Regions from separate parts of the Homo sapiens genome. Here region 1 is linked to region 2. A link means that fine-mapping ties the variant in region 2 to the expression of a gene that starts in the linked region. Tissue or cell type: whole blood. Region 2 holds a variant in brackets; the other region holds the start of a gene. All regions are shown on one strand. Distances are between the middles of the regions.

Evidence for each region. PIP is the estimated chance that this variant, and not a neighbour inherited with it, causes the effect. A credible set is the group of variants that fine-mapping cannot tell apart.
Region 1: AVEN starts here. The variant in region 2 is the best candidate, but not a certain one, in a credible set for the expression of AVEN in whole blood (INTERVAL, PIP 0.68).

What each region holds. Positions count from the first base shown.
Region 1 is chr15:34,035,120-34,043,455 of GRCh38, forward strand. AVEN (apoptosis and caspase activation inhibitor) reads right to left here and starts at 4,085. Exons shown (of 6, transcript NM_020371.3): 1 at 3,661-4,085. The coding sequence starts at 3,927. The region is part of intron 1 of CHRM5 (cholinergic receptor muscarinic 5); the gene reads left to right. RefSeq lists silencers at 3,058-3,117, 3,468-3,527, 3,618-3,827, 4,008-4,177.
Region 2 is chr15:33,842,751-33,851,086 of GRCh38, forward strand. It overlaps RYR3 (ryanodine receptor 3), which reads left to right. Exons shown (of 104, transcript NM_001036.6): 92 at 738-824; 93 at 2,112-2,312; 94 at 5,541-5,671. Among named protein-coding and RNA genes, the nearest start is that of CHRM5, 120 kb to the right of the region's middle. The variant G/GT (reference allele first, on the strand shown) is at 3,441.

The DNA of each region.
Region 1 (8,336 bases), 190 kb after region 2:
ACGCCATCGGGTATTAATTACTACTCAGGCTTTGTTTACAAAGCAAAAGTTTGATCAGAATTAAATGCCTCCAGATTCTACTTTTTAGTACAACTATAAACAGCTGTCTCATCTTTTATTGAATATAAATCATTTTAAAAGGAATATGAAAAGCTGCAATATAAACATGGAGCAAGAAAGCAAAGGTCTGGTAACACCCACAATAACTGAAGATGGTACCAATGTTACCTTAAAACCTTATAACCATACTAACATATCAGTTAAAAAAATAATCAGGCATGTGAAAGAATCACTCAACAGTCCTCCACACACCCCTTTTTCAAATCTCAAAGTCATTCCAGGAGCAGTTTAGAGCAGCAGTCGAAAGAACAGGCTCTGGAGTGAAAATGCTGGGGTGGAATCCAGGCTCAGCAATTTTCTGGTTGAGTGATATTAAAAAGTTATTTCACCTCTCCTAACTGTGAGTTATTTAACGGTGCCTCAGCTGTCTCATCTTATATTAAGTACTCGACAAATGTGAATTACTGTTATTACTAGAGGAAGGAAAAAAGAAAAAAAATTCCAAAGACTACCAGCTGGCCTTGTCTTCCTCTCTGCTAACAGCCCATCACAAAGATAAATACTAAACAATCCTAGTATTGGGGGCAGTGATAGGGGGATTATTTATTCATTTAGTTAGTAAGTTAGTTATTTGAGACAGAGTCTCACTCTATTGCCCAGGCTGGAGTGCAGTGGCAGGATCACAGCTCACTGCAGCCTCCACCTCCGGGGCTCAAAACAATCCGGCTGCTTCAGCCTCCCTTGTAGCAGGGACTACAGATGCACCCCGCCATGCTCGGCAGTTTTGTATTTTTTTTATAGAGAGGGGGTCTCGTTATGTTGCCCAGTCTGGTCTCGAACTCCCAGACTCAAGTGACCCACCCACCTCAGCCTCCCAAAGTGCTGGGATTACAAGCGCGAGCCACCACACCCAGCCAGTTTTGTGTTTTTTTTTTAAAGTTAATGATTGTATCTAGTACAATAATGCTTCTAGTGAGTATTCCGTGAAGATAATTATGCTCACCCATAATCAGTAAGCTTAGAGCTCAGACCATTTACAGAAGGAATGATTTAAGAGCAAGAGACTAAGAGATGTACTCAACTTAGTACTCAACTAAGTTACCCTGGAGTATTACATAGCTATGTAGAAGTTGGTTAGATTGATTTTGTTTTCCATTTGTATGCAGTGGTCCAAAATAGAAAGCAAAGGTGTACACAAAATTGGTTTCTGAAGGTGGACAACTGGTCTTTACATGGCTAGGAGTCTATTATGATTTTTTTTTCCTTTGATCATTTCGGTTACTCTCTCCTTGGGGCACAAATGCACCATGGGATATGAGAACAAGAAGGCTTCAGGAAAGTCAATCAATCTTGTCTCATGTAATGGTTAAGCACCAAAAATGGTGTCCTAGCAAGACTAAATACAAACAGTACTTCAGAATCTGAGAAATGGAAGGAACTTAGAGATGACCAATCCAAACCAAAATTAAGGAACAATCTGCCCAACATCCCTCCCTCCAGCTTTGGCTGAAAACATGATGATGAAGGGATAAGACCAACTCGACAAAAGAAAAAGCCTAAAATTTTAACAGAATGTGTTACAATACTATCTTAAATTTTTTAAAGTCTTGTATTATTCTTTCTTTTAATGATATACCATCATGACCAGGCGCAGTGGGTCACACCTGTAATCCATATCCCAGCACCTTGGGAGGCCGAGGCGGGTGGATCACCTGAGGTCAGGAGTTCGAGACCAGCCTGACCAACATGGTGAAACCCCATCTCTATTAAAAATACAAAATTAGCCGGGCAAGGTGGCTCATGCCTGTAATCCCAGCTACTTGGGAGGCTGAGGCAGGAGAATCACTTGAACCCGGGAGGCGGAGGTTGCAGCAAGCCAAGATCATGCCATTGCACTCCAGCCTGGGCAACAAGAGTAAAACTCCGTCTCAAAAAAAAAAAAAAAATATATACCATCATTTCACCCAATTTAATTCAACAGAGATTAACAAAACAGAAGCACCTTCACTCACTCAATTCAACTTAAAGACACTTATTAGTAAAGTCCTGTGCGCCAGACACCATAGTTAACACCAAATGTACCATTACTACAATTACTCTTAAAGCACGATCCCTGCAGCTAAGGAATATCTACTTTGTTCTCAATAAAGTGGTAACTGGTTCACGAAAAAGTAAGAGATAAAATACTGTTGACTCAAGGGCAGCTTGATATAAATCCCAGCTCTGCCACTAGCTGTGAAAGCTTAGGCAAGTCAGTTAACCTGTAAAAATAAAGATTACTCTCTATATATGGATATATAAATAATATATAACATTGTAGTTAATATATAATTACATACTATTATATTACATAATTCTACATTACATATATATTATATATATATAATAGAGTTATAAGAACAAAATGTGATATATAGTGGGCACTAGGTTGGTCTTAGTTTCTGTCATTTACCTTAGTTTCTGTCAGTTTACACGAGGTAAACTGACCCTAAAAATGTTTTTATATCTCATTCAAGTTTTGCCTATTACCTATCTTAATCCTAACAAGATTTAAGTTTGTTACATTTAAATTTAAGTTTTATACTTTTTTTTCCAGCTCTGTATTGCTGTATACAACTACTCTCTTTAGGGATATCTTATCTGCTATGCCCTCAAGATATTGTAAATACTTCAGTAAGAGCAAATTTTGCCTCATGCAAAAAAGAATTTTTTAAATCAGTGTGCATAAGAATGCAGAATATAAAGATGGTCTTGTCCTACAGATGTTAAGGTAACAGAACAACTCATAAAAAGACAGTCCTCTAACTCCTTTAGCTGAGATATGGTTAGCTTTGCCCCCATATATATCATCCCCTGCTCCAATCTCCAAAAACTTCCTTCTATGAATGTGTCAATAAGACTGATGATATTGCTATTAAAACTCAGAACTTGACTGCTCATTTATAAATTGAAAATTCAAAACGACAAAGCCCAGTGCTCGCTGATTTCTACACATACAGGCATAATAAAAGAGAACTACGCTATTACAAAGAACTATGCATCTGGTCCCGCCCCCAAATACTAGAGTCCAGTCGTAGGGGTCATTCTTTCACTCAACAAACTTTTTATTATGCGCCTACTGTGTACTAGGCATTGCACAGACAGTTAACAAAACAGACCAAAAAATCCTTTCCCTCCTAATAACAGGAGCGTGCCCGTAAAGGCTGCCGAGGGACCACGTCGTGGCCGCGCCTCCGTCCCATAGTGGTACTCGTACAGACAGCCCAGCCGGCCCACGGGCCGCCGAGACTTGCAGCCCTGACACACGGCCTTGGCCTCTGGGTTCCTAACCCGGACCCTGGGGCAGGCTGGGAAGCCCTCCTACCCCCACTGTCTCGCGCCAGCCCGGCCAGGAGGCCACGAGGGCCAAGCGCATACCCAGGCGCGCCCCCGCCACCAGGCGCGCCCCCGCGCCACCATCCGCCCGTCCCGCGCAGGCGCCGGCGCCGCCGCCCGTCTGGCGCGCGCCTGGCACGCTCTCTTGCGGCTCTTGACTGGCGGCCTCGGCCCCACTTGCCCCAGTTACACGCGGTCCCAGCCCCACCAGCCGTCGCCTCTTACCGGCGCGCTGGCCCCTGCGCCCCAGCCTCCCGGCTCCCGGCGGCTGCCTCGCGGGGCGCCTCCTCCTCCTCGGCCTCCGCGAGCGCCGCGGAAGCCCCGGCCACGGCCACGGCCCCGGCGTCCGCCTCCGTCCCCGCCGCCGCCTCCGCCGCCGCCTCTGGCTACCGCCGCTGCGGCTCCGGGCCGCTCGCTGTGGCGATCTCCGCCAGGCCGGCCGCGGCCTGGCCGCCGCCCACGGCCTCCCCGAGCTCCTCGCTCCGCCTGCATCTGGCCGCCGCTGGCGGTGCTGAGCGCGCGGGAGCCGAGCTGCGGCGGAGACGCCCTGGCCCCACCGGAAGCGGGCCGCACGGAGGAGCCGCGAGCGAAAGGCGCCCGGTAGCAGCGAGGCGCGGGGTGCGGGGCTAGGGATCGAGGCCGGCCGCAGCGGAGCGGGGCGGGGCGGGGCGGCCGGCGTCCCGCAGGTGGGGCCGGAACCGGGACCGCGGGAAGGCCGGACCGCTGGGAGCTGGAAGTGGTGGGGGTCTGCAGCGGGGCGGGGGGATTCTCAAGGCATCAGAGATAGGTTGGGGGAGAGACCGTGCTAAGTGCAAGGACGAGTCATAAAATAAAATTTGTATGATGTGAACTCTCGGAAAAAAAAAGTTTAAACGTATGTATTTGCATAAGAAAAGGTCTAAACAAATACATACTAAAATGTTAGTGGTTAACTGCTGAGATTTGAAGTGAGTTAATTTTTTTTCCTCCGTTTAATCTAATTTTCAGCAACGAATGTGTATCATTTTAAAACTATACCGAAGTCAGGGTTCAGGAGGTGTGGATGTAAAGACAAGAGTTTGTGTCTGGTGAGAGGTGGACTGCAGCACGTGGGAGAGAGAACAGTGCGAAACTGGGAGATGGCTAGAAAGGGCGTCAAAGTCCTCAGCAGAATTTCTGTAGAAATGACTACTACAGCTGACATTTATTGAGCACATGAGTATTTCATTCTCATAACAGCTCTATGAGGTAGGGATGACTGTCATCCTTATTCTGCAGTGAGGTAACAGCCTTGGAAAGGTTAAAAAAAACTTGACTAAAGTGAATAACTAGGTAGTGGTGGAACTGGCATTCTAAGGCGGTCTCACTCCAGTCCCTTCTTTCAACCAAGGAGAAAACAGGAAGGGGAACAGTTGGTTACACAGATGCATGAAAGCAGTTTTTAACTTGGGACTGAAACCACCTGAAAATAATGAAAGCAAGGGCTAAAATGTCAGCCTAGCAGAATAAGTGTTTTCTTCCCCCTCAGTACTTTCTGGTTCTTTCCTATATCCATACATAGTTAATACTTTTCATTGCTTCTAATTGCCTACTCTGCATCAGGCACAGTGCTATGTCCTGAAATTAAAAACAAAAACAAAAAAAAAACCTTGCCCCTGCCCTCAAGTAGCTCACTGCCCACAAGGAAGATAATCTAGTCGTGTGAATAGATGATTACAGTACCGTGTTGCTGAGTGCAGTGAGAGATTCAAGATCAAGGTCCAAAGAAGAAAAGTTAAATTATATTTAAACGGGTTACCCAAGGCTTCATGAGAAATAGACCCCTGAGCTAAAGCCTAATGGTTGAGTAGGAGTTTGCCTGGTTGGTAAATGGGAGTAGGGGCGCCTTCCAGACAGGGGGAACTATTGAAGGATTGTCAACTCCAGAGAAACAGTCTTAAAAATAGTAACACTTGTAGAGCACTTATATGCACCAAACACTATTCTACATACTTCTCATATCACTTCATTTGGGACTAATAGCTGGCCTACGAGGTAAGCTAGTGTTGTCTCCATTTTACAGATCAGGAATCTAAAACAGATGTTAAGTAACTTCCAAGATTACACAGTTACAGGCCAGGTGTGTGGTTCGTGCCTGTAATCCCAGCATTTTGGGAGGCTGTGGCGGGTGGATTGCCTGAGACATGAGTTCAAGATCAGCCTGGGCAACATGGTGAAACCCCATTTCTACAAAAATTAGCTGGGCATGGTGGTATATGCCTATAGTCCCACTACTTGGGAGGCTAAGATAGAGAATCATTTGAGCCCAGGAGGTTGAGGCTGTAGTGAGCTGTGATTGTACATGGGCAACAGAAGGAGACTGTCTAAAAAAAAAAAAAAGATTTCAACATGAATTTTGAGGGAGATGAACATTTAGACCATAGCAGTGGGGAAGGGGCATGGAAGAATATGGTTAAATATCTACCAGCATATCACTGGTCTGGCCTCTCACCAAGTTGAAGATCCACACATTAATCTCAAACTAGACATTTGCACAAATCGGAGTTTCTCAATGTTGGCAAATTTAGGGCTGGGTAACATTTTGTGGCGGTAGCTTATCCTGTGCATTGTAGAATATTTAATAGCATCCCTGGCCTCTACCCACTAGATGCCAGAATGAACCCCTCTCCCCCTCATTAAGACAACCAAAAACATCTCCAGACATTGCCAAATGTTCCCTGAGAGGCAATCACCCTGGATGAGAACCACTAGCACAGATAGATTGGTGCAAAAGGTACGTTTTAGTATCTAAGGAGCTACCGATGTAATTTATCCAAAAATTTATCCAGCCTTAAATTTGCCAACATTGAGAAACCCTGATTTGGGCAAATGTCTGGTATGAGATTAATATGTACATCTCCAATGTAGTGAGAGACGAGACCAGTGGGAAATAGGGCTTTAAGGAACTATATAACTATCCCTTGAGAAGCCTCCAAAATTATGAGGTTGAAAAGATCAGTGGCTTGCAGATTAAGCCAGTGTTATTAGGGCACATTCACTATGCTTGATACTTTCAACTAGTCAGTGTAAGACTCAGTAACACTTTTGAAAGGTATGCCATTTTAGAGAGAGATTGGTTTGTGGATGATGCCAAGTTTTTTTAACACTTATTTTGCACCTGATACTATTCTAAGCACTTTCCACGTACTAACTCATTAAATCTTCAAAATATCCCTATGAAATAAACACTATTATTATTCCTATTTTACAGATAAGAAAACTGAGTTGCAAAAAAGTTAAATAATTTGCTCAAGCTAGTAAGTAACAGAACTGGGATTTATACCAGTACAGTCTAATTCCAGAATCCATGCCTGTAAGTCTATTCTGCAGATGCCCTCAGAAGTCCGGGGGTATGTTACTCTCCATCTGTTCATTCAAGGCGTATCTTGTTTTTCTCAATTCAACCAAGAGTGTTTAGGATAGGAAAATTCTGAGGTCCCCCTTCTAGCACTTCCTAATTAGCGGACACAACTAGCCAAAGTTCTTTCAACAAGGATACGGTATATGCTGTCCTCGTGTGATTCTGGTCCAAAAATGTGTTATTAAGGTTTAAAAATACCACACAAGTACCTCCTGCATTTTGAGCAACCAGAGACCTTTGGATTGCATAAATAACAAAGGGAAGGAATCTTTTCTGGTATTGCTTTTGCTTGATAGTCCTGATTTTAAACATATGCCATTGCATGAATAAAAAATTCAGTTTTCCCTTAGGTAGGACTCATGAGAATTCATGAGTATCAAAACCAAAGTGCTGAATTATATAGGTAGCTCCTTAGAAACGAAACTGTACTTTTTGCATATTTTTAATACATACATGACCTAAGTTTTTTTTTTTTTTTTTTTTTGAGACGGAGTTTCGCACTTGTTGCCCAGGCTGGAGTACAATGGCGCAATCTCAGCTCACCACAACCTCTGCCTCCCAGGTTCAAGCGATTCTCCTGCCTCAGCTTCCTGAGTAGCTAGGATTACAGGCATGCACCACCACGCCCGGCTAATTTTTTTGTATTTTTAGTAGAGACGGGGTTTCTCCATGTTGGTCAGGCTGGTCTCAAACTCCCGACCTCAGGTGATCCATCCGCCTCAGCCTCCCAAAGTGCTGGGATTACAGGCAACAGCCACCGTGCCCGGCAACCTAAGTTATTTTTTAAATAAAATGGTAGCCAATTCCTTAAGGTAGTTGTTCTCAAAATGTAGGCCAGAAAAATAGCATCACCTGGGAACTTGTTAGAAATGCAAATTCAGAATTAAAACTCTGGGGATGAGGCCCAGTAATCTGTGTCTTAATAAACCTGCCAGTTGATTCTGATGCATCCTCAACTACTGTGTCAAGGTAGCATCTGAGCCTTCAAACATCACAAGAAACCCAGTAATTCCTAGTCTAAGACTATGGATTGGCCAGGCGCGGTGGCTCACGCCTGTAATCCCAGCACTTTGGGAGGCCGAGGTGGGTGGATCACGAGGTCAGGAGATTGAGACCATCCTGGCTAACACAGTGAAACCCCGTCTCTACTGAAAATACAAAAAATTAGCCAGGCATGGTGACGGGCGCCTGTAGTCCCAGCTACTTGGGAGGCTGAGGCAGGAGAATGGCGTGAACCTGGGAGGCAGAGCTTGCAGTGAGCCGAGATCACACCACTGCACTCCAGCCTGGGCGACCGAGCAAGAATCCGTCTCAAAAAAAAAAAAAAGACTATGGATCTCATAGGCTTTCACTGTTTGACGAAAAGTAGATGTTATGATAGGACTTAGAAAAAAATGCACTGTCCTCTTGCAAATATAAAGTTTGTGGGGAAAGTACCTCTTCCTGATTCTTCTCTTCATAGGCAAGCAGATTTTCTATAGTTTAGCTAGTTTCTCGTGCTTAATATATAAACAATGCAAAC
Region 2 (8,336 bases):
TCCAGGTTGGGAGTTGCCAGGGTCTTCTGCGAGCCTAGACCACTTACAGTTTCCTAATAGACTGCTTGCTGCGTGGAGTGATCACGAAAATGCAGTCACACAGCACTTCAAGGCAAGGCTCGAGTCCTCTGCTGGTGGCGTGTTTAGGCCTTTGGCTCCCTGAGCAATAAAGCCAGAGCAGGATTCTTTATACCAATTCTAAGCAATTTTTTTTTAAATCAACATTTTGGTTCCATGTTCATGACACGACACAGTCATGCCATGGCTGTGTTAAGAATGCCAGGGTTGGCCGGGCACGGTGGCTCACGCCTGTAATCCCAGCATTTTGGGAGGCCGAGATGGGTGGATCACGAGGTCAGGAGATCGAGACCATCCTGGCTAACACAGTGAAACCCCGTCTCTAGTAAAAAAACAAAAAAATTAGCCGGGTGTGTTGGCGGGCGCCTGTAGTCCCAGCTACTCGGGAGGCTGAGACAGGAGAATGGCATGAACCCGGGAGGTGGAGCTTGCAGTGAGCCGAGATTGCACCACTGCACTCCAGCCTGGGGGACAGAGCGAGACTCCATCTCAAAAAAAAAGAAAGAAAAGAATGCCAGGGTTACCCTAGAAGAGTGGTCATCAAAGAGTAGGACGAGTCAAGTGTGAACTTCTAACCAGAACTGACCTTCTGTGTGAAAGTAGGAAGTTCTCTTTTCCTTCCAAAGCTCTTCTACTTCTGCCTGTCCTTTTCTTTGCAGCATTACCTGGCCAGGAATTTCTACAACCTGAGGTTCCTTGCTCTGTTTGTAGCCTTCGCTATCAACTTCATCCTGCTTTTTTATAAGGTGATACTTCATTCAGGGGTTATTTGCTAAATATGCTGTATACTAAGTATGCTATGTGTAGAAAAAGAATCATGACAGAATTTGTGCTCTTAATTGTAGCAAACATTCTAATAGGTAGCAAATTTCTAAGACATTGGCTTCTAAAAGGAATACAATTTCTAGCAGTGGAGAGACTACTGACAAGAGAGCCAGTGAGGGGACTATTTCAATAGTTCATGCTTATTTTAGTCGTTGCTTAGTCTTCAAATACTTGCTGAGCATCTACCATGAGCTAGACCCTGTATTAGGAACAACAAGGTATTTCAAAATGAGTAATAAATAAAATTCTTTCTTCAAGGAATAAGGTAACCAAGAGCCATTATAGTTGGCCTATTTGTTAGAAGCGTTATAAAGGAAAAATTAACAGGATTTGGAAAGAGAGGGGACTGCTCAAGTTAAATGAAGGTTTTGAACATTGGCAAGTGGGTCTTGCATGCTGTAGGCATGTAATAATTGTTAGTGCAGTGAATTAATGAAGGGTCCTGAATTCTCGACATAGTCTTTAACTGGTTTTTCTATCTCTTGCCTATCTCCCTTTCTACTTAAAACCACCAATCTAATTTGTATGAAACATTGTTTTATCCACCTCAACTTTCCACTCGACAAACTAATGACCTTCTGTTGCCCATAAAAGAAAAATGGAAGTCCATAGCCAAGAGAGGCAAAGCTTGGTTTTAAACACATTGAGGTTGAAGTGACTTCAGACAGCCATCCAAGAAGAGAAAGCCAGCAAGCAGTTGGAGCTACAGGACAAAGCCTCAAAGTTGTAGATTTGAGAGTCATCTGTATAAGAATAGCGGCTGAAGCCATGAATGTAAATGGCATCTCAGAAAGAATGGAAAATACTGAGTCTCTGGCTGGGTGGCAGTGGTGGGTGGGGGAGCGGGCACACACATCCTTCACGCTTGTGTGTGTGTCTTTGCCTCCTCTCAGGCCACAGCATGATCAGAGATTCCCTTCTGTGGCATAAGGATTATAAGCATATGTAGTAAAAGTTGCCTAATTTTAATTTTTTTGCTTTCTTCTCAAGAGATAGGTTTTGTCTCCTTTTTAAAAGTTTGTTTGCAATTATTAGAGATACTGGGTGATTCCTAGTAATAAGTCACCTAAAAACCTCATTCATTCAGCAAGTAATGTTGAGTCACTACTATTTGTATAGCACATGCTAACAATATAAAATATGTGGGGAGAGCCCAATGGCTGAGGTTCTTTTTGATGTTTAATAAGCGAGTGTGTATTTTGAGCCAGGTCACTGAAGAACCTTTAGAAGAAGAGACAGAGGATGTTGCAAACCTATGGAATTCCTTTAATGACGAGGAAGAGGAAGAAGCGATGGTATTCTTTGTCCTTCAGGAGAGCACCGGGTATATGGCACCAACCCTGCGTGCCCTGGCCATCATCCATACCATCATCTCTCTAGTCTGTGTGGTGGGCTACTACTGCCTGAAGGTGAGCTGTTTGCCACTCTGGATCTAATCTCACTCCTTGAGGAAGAAATGTCCTTTTTGAGCCCAGCCAGCCCTTTGCTCTAAGACTTTGCTAGCCGTAAAGGCCTTCGTAAGGTCCGTAGAGCAGCAGCAGCACATCACTTGGGAGCTGCCTAGACCTGCAGAGTCTCAGGCCTCACCATAGGTTTTCTTCTGTTGTTGTTGTTTTTGAGATGGGTTTCGCTCTTGTCTCGCAGGCTGGAGTGCAGTGGTGCAAGCTCGGCTCACTGCAACCTCCGCCTCCCAGGTTCAAGCAATTGTCCTGTCTCAGCCTCCCGAGTAGCTGGGATTACAGATGCCTGCCACCATGCCCAGCTAATTTTTGTATTTTTTAGTAGAGACAGGGTTTCACTATGTTGGCCAGGCTGGTCCTGAACTCCTGACCTCAGGTAATCCATCTGCCTCGGCCTCCCACAGTGCTGGGATTACAAGCATGAGCCACTGCGCCCAGCCCCTAAGTCCTTTAACTCAGAATCTACCACTTAGCATGATCACTGGGCAATCTGTACGCACTTTCAAGTTTGAGAAGCCTTGAGCTAGGAGTCCCATTTCAGGTACCTCTTGTTGAATTTCATAGAACTAGAGTCATCAGGCTAAAGTCACATGGAGAGCTAGTCATGACAGAATCTTCTGATCTTTGAATTGATGTCAAAATTTTTATAAAAATACCTTTTCATTAGGTGGTAACCACTCAAGATCTCAGAAGAAAGCTTACTGATGTGTTAGTTTTCAGTTATCCATTGCTGCATAACAAACCACTCTAAAACTCAGTGGTCTAAAATGACAACTATTTATCTCTGTGATTCTGTGAGATGACTGGCACATTTGGGCAGTTCCTCTGTTCTATGTAAAGGCGCTACATTTGCAGCCATCTGCGAGCTCAGCTGGGCTGGAATGGCCAAGATGGCACATTCCCATGCCTGGCAGCTCCACAGGGGGACAACTGGAAGGATGGGCTCAGCTGGGGTAGCTGGGCCTCTCTCTGTCTCCCTCTTTCTCTCCAGGGAGATTCAGAGCATCTCCTTCTCCACGTGGCCTTTCCACATGATCTGTCCGGTAGGGTAGCTAGACTTCTTGCATGATGGCTTGG[G/GT]TTTCCAAAAAGAGCATGGAGGTGGAAGCTGCTAAGCCTTCCTAGGTCTTAGGCCCAGAACTGGTACAGTGTCATTTCCATTGCATTCTGTGGTTTAAGGCAAGTCACATGGCCATCCCAGATGCACTGCTGCATGGTAGAGGGGAGAGGCACTACACAAAGGCATGAATTCCAGGAGGCGTGGTTCCTTGGGGCCATATTCACAACCACTACAGTTATGTCAATCTTCTGTCATTCAATTTTTGGTGTCCCAAGTCCAGATCTAGTTCTGCTACATCATAATTGTGTTTTTCTCACTGCTTTTCTCATTACATTTTTTTCTTCCTTCTCTTGAGTAGGAAGTCTCCTTAAGTACAGCAAGCCATCTTCTTCCCAGGAAGAGTCCAGGAAATACTTTCCTATATTGTGGTCCTTTCTTCCCTCAGTGAACTATTGTGTCATGTAGGAAGTCCAGCTACTGTGCTGCAGAGACCTTATGCCCTGGGCTACACTAAGGACTCTATTGCAACTATGAAAGTGCAAATTCTGGAGCCAAGCTGCCTGGGTTGAACTCACAGCTCTGCCACTTAAACTCCCAGTCCTCTATCTTCTCATACATAAAAATGAGTACTGTTGCTAAAGTTGCTGGGGGGATTAAATGTAGAGGTATGTGTAAATGTACTCAGAACACATAGTAAACCCTCAAGCATGTTCGCTGCTGCTCCTTAGTTTGAGATCCTAGAGTTCAGCTTATTAGATGGAGTACAGATTATACTGTGACCAGGAGAAACAAAAAAGAAACACTATTTAGCAAGTAAAGAATGTGGAAGTTCTGTTTACGAGAGTATACAAACTTCTAGGAGACTGAAGGGGAATGCTTGGAATCCCAGAGATGAGCACCGCTCTACAACTTGATATTACTACTGTTCTCTAGAGTCATCCAAAACACGGCAGGCATTAGTCGCTGAGCTTTGCCTCACCTCCCACATCATCTGTGTACTAACAGTCATCATCAGTTCCTCACAGTGTGCAGTGGCTACTAGCCTTTGCCACCTTCCTATCGTGAGTTTTTCATTTTATCAGTGTTATTTCATTGTTTTAAAGAAAAACAGGGCAAGAGGTAACTCTTTACAAATCACTGTCTGAATTTTGTTCTTTTGTTTTGGACAAAAGCGATGTGGGGTACATGCATATCATGGGTTTGGAGACAAAGGTCTCAAGGATGTTGCCAAGTAGCCAGTGGCATCTCAGCTGGAGATGAGATGAGACGCCCTAGCTCTGTCTGAATTAAGCTTTTCTGGCTAGAGGAGCTGCGTCAATTGTGACTTCTCATTTCCTGGGATTTCAGCAGTATCCTCTGGCCTCATTAACTGTCCCATGTTTGGAGTGTGTGTGCACTTAGTGATGGTTGGGGCAAGTGGATTATTTTCCAATCCCTTTCTGTGTTCCCCTTTGGCAGTAGGTCCTTAGAGCCATACCACTATATCTAGTCTAAAATAAAAGTTCCAATTATAAAAGAATAGAGAGTGATAGTAGGAAACAAGTATGCCACTACCTGGAAGGAGCTCTTTACGGACAGAATCTCAGGAAGAAAACTTCATACAGAAAGACTGAATCTTCTCATTCTAACTATGAGACCATGTTTCATTAACTGACCTTCAACGCCATGAGATAAATATGGCCCTGTACATTGAAGGGAGTTGGAACATTTCATCATATTCCTGTGGCTGGCCGATCTATTCTAGAATGGTTTATTGTCCTTTCTAAATCTTGGTTCAACTCCAGCCGAGGAGCCTTAGGAGTCCTAACTCATTCAACCCTGGGGCTCATCTAGGCGTGGCCTGCACACTAGCATGGGTCAAGGAGTCTAGTTTGTATTAATATTAGCCATCTAACTGAAAACTTAAAGGGTGACCCAAATCAGATCAGCTTTAAAGAGGTAGGTAGGTATTTAGCCAAAGAGATTCATTTGGCTTTGATCCCACAACTAGGCACTCTAAGAATTCCACTATAAGGAGATTGCTGCTCTGAAGTTGGAAGGTTAATTTGTGACAAATACCTGGGAGCAGGAGCTTTAATCACAAAGCCTGCTCTGAGTAACCATCCTCCTCCCACTCCTAGGTGCCTTTGGTGGTTTTCAAAAGGGAAAAAGAAATCGCCAGGAAGCTGGAGTTTGATGGCCTATATATCACCGAACAGCCATCTGAAGATGACATCAAGGGGCAGTGGGACCGCTTGGTGATCAACACACCGTGAGTGTCCCTCTACCCCAACCTAAAAAGGAGATGGAGTCTCTACTGTAAATAGAGTAACTCTTTCCTCCTGGCCTTAAAACTGGTTAATATAAACTGTCTTTTGATTTCTAGGACTTTTCTCCCTTGCCTCTTCAATAAAGCCACTTACTGCCCATCAAATACTTGTATAGACTTCTATTAGTTTAATGGGGACAGAAGATATTATCAGAAAGTACTGAATATATTTGATTTAGACCAGACAGTCCAGTACAATATTGCTTAAACTAGTTTTCCATGTTCGAGTCACACAGTGTTTCCAGGGCTTAAGTGGCCAAGGCGTCTAGAGATCAAGTTGATCAGCTTCAGCTTTTCCATAGCCTTCCATGGCACAGCACTGCTATAACTGCCATCTCTGAAGTCCTCTTTTTTTTTTTTTTTTTTTTTTTTTTTGAGACAGAGTCTCCCTTTGTTGCCCAGGCTGGAGTGCAGTGGCGCGATCTCAGCTCACTGCAAGCTCTGCCTCCCGGGTTCACGCCATTCTCCTGCCTTAGCCTCCCGAGTAGCTGGGACTACAGGCGCCTGCCACCACGCCTGGATAATTTTTTTGTATTTTCAGTAGAGACGGGGTTTCACCGTGTTAGCCAGGATGGTCTCGATCTCCTGATCTGGTGATCCACCCACCTCAGCCTCCCAAAGTGCTGGGATTACAGGCATGAGCCACCACGCCCGGCCTGAAGTCCTCCTCTTAACCAAATAGCCTGCTTGGTAAGAGACCTCGTCTTAACGTAAGATTGAGAGGCAATTACATGGGCAGGTAAATAGAGCCGTCTGGTAGGGATATGAAGACCTGTGGAGGCAAGCCTGCCTTCCTGTAGGCATGTGGCACTGTGGTGGGAAGAAGGAAGAGCACTGATTGACAGGCAGGTGACACCAAGGCTCTGACGCTTACTGGTCTGTGAACTTGCACAAGGTAATCAAGCCTTCTCAGCCTTAGTTTCCTCATCAGTAATAGAAGGATGAGAATATCATCCTGCAGAGGATTAATGAATGTATGTGTCAAATGCTTGGCAAATGCCTGGCACGTGGTAGGCATTAAGCTGTTACTCATTCTCTTTTCTTTCCTGTAACTATCCAAAAAGTGGCCATCACCATTAGCAAATGTCACACTCTAATGACAGTTGATTCACAAGTAAGTGACAGTTTCAAGATAAATTAATGTGGCAAAAGAAAAGAAATAGGGCCAAATAGTAAACAAAGGTGACTGTGTTGAAACTCTTAGGTGTGCCAATTAAGATAGGCATGTTAAGAAACAGCAACCCTGACTCCAGGGGAAGAAAGCTGTGTCCTATCCAAAGATGATCAGGCAAACTGAGAAGCAGCTCTGCAAAGGTACAACTAAGGATATTTATTTCTTTATATTCTCCAGAAAAGGAAGCCTCTTCCCTTAGAAGGGGGAAAATGTGAACAGGCACATCCTCACATCCTAAGTCTGTCCCTGCCTGCGGGTCCCCTGCCAATCTTCTCACACAAGGAAAAGCACTGTTTCTGATGCTTTGTCATTACATTACAGAAGTCTTAGACACTATTGAATAGTTTAATCCTTTGGTAAGCTTTGTGCAATCATCAGTAATGCCTGCGTCTTGTTATACAGGGGCATGTGGCCTAAAAGTCCCAGTAAGAAGGCAGTTCAATTTCGGCCAGGCACAATGGTTCATGCCTGTAATCCCAGCGCTTTGGGAGGCCGAGGCGGGTGGTTCATGAGGTCAGGAGTTCGAGACCAGCCTGGCCAACATAGTGAAACCCCGTCTCTACTAAAAATACAAAAAAATTAGCTGAGCGTGGTGGTGGGCGCCTGTAATCCCAGCTACTTGGGAGTCTGAGGCAAGGAGAATCACTTGAACCTGGGAGGCGGAGGTTGCAGTGAGCTGAGATCACACCACTGCGCTCCAGCCTGGGCGACAGAGCAAGACTTCATCTCAAAAAAAAAAAAGAAGGCAGTTCAATTTCTAGCAATGTATCCTAAGGAGATAATGAGACAAGTACACTAAAATGTCCTAACAAAGGTATTTCCCAATATTTTTTACTTAGAGTGGCTTAAACGTCCATGAGTAGGAAATGCATAAATAAATAGCTATTTTTTAAAATGTTAGATAGACCAATGTTTAATTTTTTTTCACAATGGCATCATAGTACATGTTCATGTTTTGTAACGTGCTTTTTTTCAGTTAACTGTATGTCATGGGAGCTTTCTTTTTAAACATTTTACTTTTATATTGTTAAGCACACATAAGAACATATAAAATGTATATGTACATTTTACAGTATAATTATAAACCAAAAAGGTTAAAAAAATAGAACATTACTGAGAGCTTAAAAATCCCCTGTATTATCCTCCCTGATTATATCTTCCCAACCCACAGCTATCTACATTTTTGATGTTCATTAGTGGTTAGTAATATTAATTCTTAAATAATTAGCAATCAGTGATATTAGTGATATTCATTCTCCTGCCTTATAGTTTTCCCACTTAGGTATTTGTCCCTAAATATATTTTGACTATTTTGACTATTTGGAACTTAATATAAGTGGAATTATACTATATACATTATACTGTCACTTGAATTTTTTTTAGCATTGTTTGGGAACTCACCTATGTTGATGTATATAGCTATAGTTTGTTCAT